Homo sapiens: one gene and its partner. The protein of the gene in region 1 purifies or fractionates together with the protein of each later gene. This does not show direct contact. Each region holds a gene or a part of one and is shown on either strand. Other genes may lie near its edges.

The links.
Region 2: the proteins of MEF2B (region 1) and UBN2 purify together in Homo sapiens (affinity purification with mass spectrometry, with the first as the bait; one large-scale study listed by BioGRID). This does not show direct contact.

Annotation. Positions count from the first base shown.
Region 1 is NC_000019.10:19,149,689-19,153,505, reverse strand, and holds part of MEF2B (myocyte-specific enhancer factor 2B), read left to right. Parts: intron 1-2,741; 5' UTR 2,742-2,770; coding exon 2,771-2,824; intron 2,825-3,817. Other genes in the region: BORCS8-MEF2B (myocyte-specific enhancer factor 2B), read left to right, coding at 2,771-2,824. UniProt on the Homo sapiens protein: Transcriptional activator which binds specifically to the MEF2 element, 5'-YTA[AT](4)TAR-3', found in numerous muscle-specific genes. Activates transcription via this element. May be involved in muscle-specific and/or growth factor-related transcription.
Region 2 is NC_000007.14:139,258,560-139,262,376, forward strand, and holds part of UBN2 (ubinuclein-2), read left to right. Parts: coding exon 1-66; intron 67-707; coding exon 708-811; intron 812-2,692; coding exon 2,693-3,182; intron 3,183-3,817.

The DNA of each region.
Region 1 (3,817 bases):
CAGCCTGGGCGACAGAGTGAGACTCTGTCTCAAAATAATGATAATAATAATAAATTAAATTAAAAGAAGGAAACCCAAAAGAAGGAGTCCTAGAATGGCCCAACCTCTGTGGCCTCATCCCCACCCTCCCGCTGTTTCTTGTCCCTCCTCAGGGCCCTGGCACCTGCTCTTCCTTCTGCCTGGAACTCACTTTCTATCTCAGCTCTCAGGGTCTCAGTGCAGAGAGAGACTTCCCAGTTCTCCCCCATCACATGACCTCTGCCCTAGCCATGGTGTCTGTGTCTAAAATGGGGACAGACAGAGTGAGAAGGGGCTTGAGTCAGGTCTTCCAGGCTTAAGAGACTCAGGCCTAAGCCCCAGCCCTGCTGCTGCTCTCGTGGGACCCTGGGCATCAGGGGCATTTCCGGAGTCATCTTGGCCCTGGGACCTCCGGACCAAGGCCCCCGTCCACCCCCCAGGGACCCATCAGGGTGGGGGCAACATATCCCAGCCGTGGGAACAGGCCCGATTCCGGCTGGGGATTAAAATTAGCCCTGGAGGTTAAATTTAGCAAGTCAAGCCGGAGCTGAGGGTCTGGGACTGACAGCTTGGGCTCTACATAGTTGTGGGGGCTCAGAGACCCAGCCCAGAGAGGGCAGAGGGTGTGCCTGGGGTCACACAGCATGCCATATCTGCCAGCCGAGGTATCTAACACTTCTGGGCCCTGGGATAATGGAGGGCCTTGCCCAGACCGCTTGGGCAGGGGTCTGGGAAGCCCTGAGAACACTCCCAGAGAACAATCTGGATTTCTTTCTTTCTGTTTTTGAGACGGAGTCTCGCTCTGTTGCCCAGCCTGTCAAAATCTCGGGATCTCGGCTCACTGCAACCTCCGCCTCCCAGGTTCAAGGGATTCTCCTGCCTCAGCATCCTGAGTAGCTGGGTCTACAGGTGCCCACCACTATGCCTGGCTAATTTTTGTATTTTTAGTAGAGACAGGGTTTTGCCATGTTGGCCAGGCTGGTCTCGAACGCCTGACCTCGTGATCCACCCACCTCAGCCTCCCAAAATACTGGGATTACAGGCATGAGCTACCACGCCAAGCCAGATTTCTTTTTCTTTTTCTTTTTCTTTTTCTTTTTTTTTTTTGAGACAGAGTCTTGCTCTATCACCCAGGCTGGAGTGCAGTGACACACCTGCCTCAGCCTCCCAAGTGGCTGGGACTACAGGTGTGCGCCACGACAGCTGGTTAATTTTTGCATTTTTAATAGAGATGGGGTGGGTAGGATGCGGTGGTAATCCCAACACTTTGGGAGGCCAAGATGGGTGGATCATGAGGTCGGGAGTTTGAGACCAGCCTGACCAACATGGTGAAACCTCGTCTCTACTAAAAATACAAAAATTAGCTGGGCATAGTGGAGGGCACCTGTAATCTCAGCTACTTGGGAGGCTGAGGCAGGAGAATCACTTGAACCTGGGAGGCGGAGGTTTTAGTGAGCCGAGATCGCGCCATTGCCCTCCAGCCTGGGCAACAAGAGTGAAAACTCGTCTCAAAAAAAAAAAAAAAAAAATAGAGATGGGGTTTTAGCATGTTGGCCAGGCTGGTCTCGAACTCCTGATCTCAAGTGATCTGCCTGCCTCGGCCTCCCAAAGTGCTGGGATTACAGGCGTGAGCCACCGTGACCGGCCTGATCTGGATTTCTTGATAACTTGTTGCCAAGCCTGGTGGTGGGTGCTCAGCATTTCCTACCAGCCCATTCACAGAAGAGCAAACTGAGGCCTGGGGAAAGGGTCTTCTGTGCTGAGGGCTGCCCTGAGGGTCAGAGGGAAGGCCAGGCCTGAGCGTAGGTCCGCGTGACCCTGGAGAGGCCCCTTGCCTGAAGCCTCAGTCACCTGTGACATGGTAGAGGCTGGGAGGTGGAGTGTGGTCACACAGTTGGCGGAGCGGGGACGTCCCCTGTGGTGTCAGGGGACGTCTGTACAGAGGGCGGCGGCTGCAGGACAGGCCACATGATTCGATTGTTCCCAGGAACCTCGAGTGGGGGTCTCTGGGGAAGGCCTGGACCCCAGCATAGTCCAGCAGTCTCCTCCTTCTGGGACCCCTACCAGGGCGATCTCACATCTCCTTGAGTGGGGTACAGGATTTCTTCCAAGTCACCAAGTGGATGCCAGGCCCACACCCTGGCCCAAGGACTCTGAGCTGGAGGCCTTTCCAGAGTGTGCCTGCATCCTCCTGCTAGAGCAGGAGGCGTTTCTATTATTCTGTTTTCTTTTTCCTTTAAAGACTGGGTCTCTGTTGCCCACGCTGGAGTGCAGTGGCAAGATCATAGTTCACTGCAGCCTCAACCTCCCCAGCTCAAGTGATCATCCTACTTCAGCCACCGGAGTACCTGGGACTATAGACGTGTGCCACCATGCCTGGCTAATTTTTGCATTTTTTGTAGAGCCGGGGTTTCAACATGTTGCCCAGGCTGGCCTCAAACTCCCAGGCTCAAGTGATCCTCCTGCCTTGGCCTCCCAAAGTGCTAGGGATCACAGGCATGAGCCACCATGCCCCATTTGGTCTAAACATGTTCATTGAGCCTCTACTGCATCCTAAGGCTGGCCGGGGGCGGGGTCTGCGACAGTGACCCAGCCTGCCTTGATTTTCCCCATCATCTTCCTCTCAGTGGCTGGCAGGGGCAGACAGAGGAGAGGTGTGAGGCTGGGGTACCCCTCCCCACTCTCCACCCACTCACTCTGTCCTCTCCCTCTTCTCCTCCTAGACAAAGATCATTCCACTCAGCCTGGGACGATGGGGAGGAAAAAAATCCAGATCTCCCGCATCCTGGACCAAAGGAATCGGCAGGTGAGTTCACTGGGTGGAACAGTGGCTGGGAAAGACATTCCTAGCAGGGGGCATGGCCTAGGCAAGGGACTGACCTGACCAATTGAACTGCAGGGGAATGAGGAGGCATGAGGAGTCCTGATGCCATGTCAGCCTTTCTTTTTTTTTTTTTTTTTTTTGAGATGAAGTCTCACTCTGTTGCCCAGCCTGGAGTGCAATGGTGCAATCTCAGCTTACTGCAACCTCTGCCTCCCGGGTTCAAACGATTCTTCCTCAGCCTCCTGAGTAGCTGGGATTACGGGTGCGCACCACCAAGCCCAGCTAATTTTGCAGTTTTAGTAGAGACGGGGTTTCACCATGTGGGCCAGGCTAGTCTCGAACTCCTGACCTCGTGATCTGCCCGCCTCGGCCTCCCAAAGTGCTGGGATTACAGGCGTGAGCCACCGCGCCTGGTCTGTCAGTGTTTCTTGTTTCCCCTCCCTCCCTCCTTCCCTCCTTCCTTCCTTCCTTCCTTCCTTCCCTCCCTCCCTCCTTCCCTCCCTCCCTCCTTCCCTCCCTCCTTCCCTCCTTCCTTCCATCCCTCCTTCCATCCTTCCTTTTTTTTTTTTTTTTTTTTTTTGAGATGGAGTTCACTTTGTTGCCCAGGCTGGAGTGCAGTGGAGCGATCTCGGCTCACTGCAAGCTCCGCCTCCTGGGTTCAAGTGATTCTCCTGCCTCAGCTTTCCGAACAGCTGGGATTACAGGCGCCCACCACCACGCCTGGCTAGGCTAATTTTTGTAGTTTTAGTAGAGTCAGGGGTCTCACCATGTTGCCCAGGCTAGCCTCGAACTCCTGACCTCAATCAATCCTCCTGCCTGGGCCTCCCAAAGTGCTGGGACCTCAGGCTGAGCCACCGCACCTGGCCTGCTCATTTTCATGATCATTATTCATTTATTCTCCCTGATGACTGGAACCCCAGCCATAGGGGAGATGGAGCTTGACACAGCCACACCTAACTCAGAGGGCCAGAACAG
Region 2 (3,817 bases), on another chromosome or scaffold:
TTTCGCCAAGCTTCAGATACTGAAGAAGATGATATTACAGACAACCAAAAGCACAAGCCACCCAAGGTGAGTTTATCAAACATTGCAACAGTACTGAGAATGTTCAATTAATAGGATTTTTTTTAATGTTACTTGTGTCACACGTGTGAATGTAAGGAAAAGTAAAATACAAACCATTGTGTCATGAATATATAATTACATGCTTTAAAATTAAATTATGTAGATATTGGAAAATTGGTATTTACATCATAGAATTATATTTTCTTATAAAAACTTCTCTCTACAAATGTGGGCTAATAATTTACTGTTTCTGGGAGAAGGTTATATTTCTCGGATAGGTTAATATTAATAGCTGTTACCTTTCCTAAGATGTCATTTTTAACAAAATCTATAGAATTTGTATACATTGTCTTTGGGAAAGATATAGTGTCCTTGGATAAGTGTTTCTTGAAGTGTGGCCCAAAGACTTACTTACACCAGAATCACCAGAATGCTTGTTTAAAATGCAAATTATAAGGTTCTAACTCAGATAACTGAATCGAAACCGGAGGTGAGAGTGCTCTTGAACCCCAAGGATCTGCAGTTATAACAAACGATTGTAATGCACACTGACATTTGAGAAAAACCACTGCTGATGCTGGATTGCTAACATCAAAGAGTAAAGCATTGTTACTTACATAAATGATCATTCTTTTATCATTTTGCAGGTCCCCAAAATAAAAGAAGATGATATTGAGATGAAGAAGCGGAAGCGGAAAGAGGAAGGGGAAAAGGAGAAGAAGCCAAGGAAAAAAGTTCCCAAACAACTGGGGTACGTTAAATTAAACCTAAGAAGGGAACTGGCGTCACAGTCTGACTGTCTCTCCCTTTAGAAAGATATACTTACCATTAACTAATTCAACCTAGCTGAGTCTAATTTAGTACGTTATTGACATATTAGTGACTTATGTTTAATAGTATTGTAGTATTTGTTCTTAAGTAGAAGGCTTTGTCATCTTAGAGACTCCTAGTGTTTTAGGTGAAATGCTCATTACTACTTTTACCAACAAGAACCAGTTTGAAAAGATATTATAAACATTGAAAAAACTGTTCTAATCTTTTGGTACTAAAACTAAGTTTAGATGCCTGGGGAATGAGGATTGGCAGTAGCCTATATGTAAACAATTTATGGTTGTTTTAATATTAAAAATTTTGATTTGATTGATTTGAGACAGAGTCTCACTGTATCACCCAGGCTGAAGTGCAGTCCCACAATCTAGGCTCACTGCAACTCCCATCTCCTGGGTTCAAGTGATTGTTATGCCTCAGCCTCCCAAGTAGCTGGGATTACAGGTGTATGTCATCACACCCGGCTAATTTTTGTATTTTTAGTAGAGAATATTTTAGTAGTGAAACATGAGGGTTTCACCATGTTGGCCAGGCTGGTCTCAAACTCCTGACCTCAGGTATTCTGCCTCCCTCAGCCTCCCAAAGTGCTCGGATTACAGATGTGAGCCACTGCACCCAGCCAAAATTTTCATTGATTTTACATAGCTATTCTTTTTTTTTTTTCTCTTTTAGATAGGGTCTTGCTATGTCACCCAGGCTGGAGTGCACTGGCACAATCATGGCTCACTGCAGCCTCAACCTCCTGGGATCAAGGGATCCTCCTGCCTCAGCTACCTGAGTAGCTGGGACTATAGGCATGTACCACTATGCCTGGCTAATTTTTATATTTTTGTACAGATGGTGTTTCGCCATGTTATCTAGGCTGGTCTCGAACTCCTGGGCTCAAGTGATTCACCAGCCTCAGCCTCCGAAAGTGCTGAGATTACAGGCATGAGCCACTGCACACAGCCAGTATATAGCTATTATTAATGATATTGCTGCTAAAAAACAAATAGAATTTCTCAGAAGCCTTACATCAGAAGAATAAAATATTTGTATAATGCAGTCAAACATTACCAATTGCCTTGACTTCTCTGTGGCTTTTTTCACAGAGCTAAGGGAAAGACGCTTGTGAGAGGCTGAATTTTCTTACTCTACTTAGCAGTGGAGGTGCATCTGAATTTTGGGTTATCAATATCCATAAGATTGATGTCGGGCGTATTTCTCCCCTCCTAAAACTTGGGATTACAGTCATTAAGAAATTAGGAGGAAAAATGTGTATATTACTAATGGTTGTCTTAAATCTTCATTATTTACAAGTAGACTTCTTTGGGAATGTAGGCTATAAGTAATCCCTTTTATTGAGTGTATTGTTTTTCAACTTTATAACTTATTCATTTATTCAGCTAATATTTATTAAGTACCCTGCTGTATACCAGGCACTGATACAGGGTTTGGGTTGTATAACAGTGACTGAAACACGGGGCTGCCTTTAAGATGCTAATAACCTTTTAGGTTCTGTAGTGCACATAGAAGCATTTAAGCCATAGGATTTAGAAAAGATTTCTAGGAGGAAGTAATAGCTAAACTGAGCTGTTTCCCCATTTTCTTCACTGTAATGGCCATTTACCTATTTGCCTTTCGTGGGTGACATTCCAGATTATACTGAAGAAGGTGCTATTGTAATAGTATAAGTTAATAAGAAATTAAGAAAACTGCTCTGTCACCTGTCAAATTATTATTTTAATTCTGTGCCTGCTTATTTATGTGACACTTTAACGTTTAAAATCACACATAGCCTAACTGATCATTTTTGTCTTCACAGAGTTGTGGCTCTAAATTCACACAAGTCTGAAAAAAAGAAGAAACGTTATAAAGATTCTCTTTCTCTAGCTGCCATGATTAGAAAATTCCAGAAAGAGAAGGATGCATTAAAGAAGGAGTCTAACCCCAAAGTCCCAGTGACCTTGTCAACCCCTTCTCTGAATAAACCCCCATGTGCTGCTGCAGCACTGGGGAATGACGTCCCGGACTTAAATCTGAGCAGCGGTGATCCAGACCTTCCCATTTTTGTTAGCACAAATGAACATGAGCTGTTTCAGGAAGCTGAAAATGCCCTAGAGATGCTAGATGATTTTGACTTCGACAGATTACTGGATGCTGCTTCTGATGGTAGCCCCCTATCTGAGTCGGGGGGTGAAAATGGAACCACCACCCAGCCAACCTACACTTCTCAGGTTATGCCCAAAGTGGTACCTACACTCCCAGAGGGTCTACCTGTACTTCTTGAAAAACGTATCGAAGACCTTCGTGTAGTAAGTGTAATAATTCTCTTGCTTTTTATTTGCTGCACAAACATAAGAATTAATGCTTTTGTTCGTTTGTTTTTATTTTCCACATAACACTGGTATAATTGCTTTTGTTTTTTAAAGATAAAAATAATAAACTACAATCTGAACATTTTTATAACTTTTTATTTGCCATGTTTCCTTTTAGACCTTTCTTTTTTCTTTCTTTCTTTCTTTTTTTTTTTTTTTTAGTAGAGACGGGGTTTCACCGTGTTAGCCAGGATGGTCTCAATCTCCTGACCTTGTGATCCGCCTGCCTTGGCCTCCCAAAGTGCTGGGATTACAGGCGTGAGCCACCGCACCTGGTGTTTTATTTTATTTATTTATTTATTTATTTATTTTGAGACAAAGCCTTGCTCCGTCGTCACACAGGCTGGAGTGCAGTGGCGTGCTCTGCTCACTGCAACTTCTGCCTATTAGGTTCAAGAGATTCTCTTGCCTCAGCCTCCCAAATATCTGGGATTACAGGTGCGCACCATCTCCCCCGGCTAATTTTTGTATGCTTAGTAGAGATGGGGTTTCCCTATGTTGGCCAGGCTGGTCTTGAATTCCTGACCTCAAGTGATCTGCCTGCTTTGACCTCCCAAAGTGCTGGGATTACA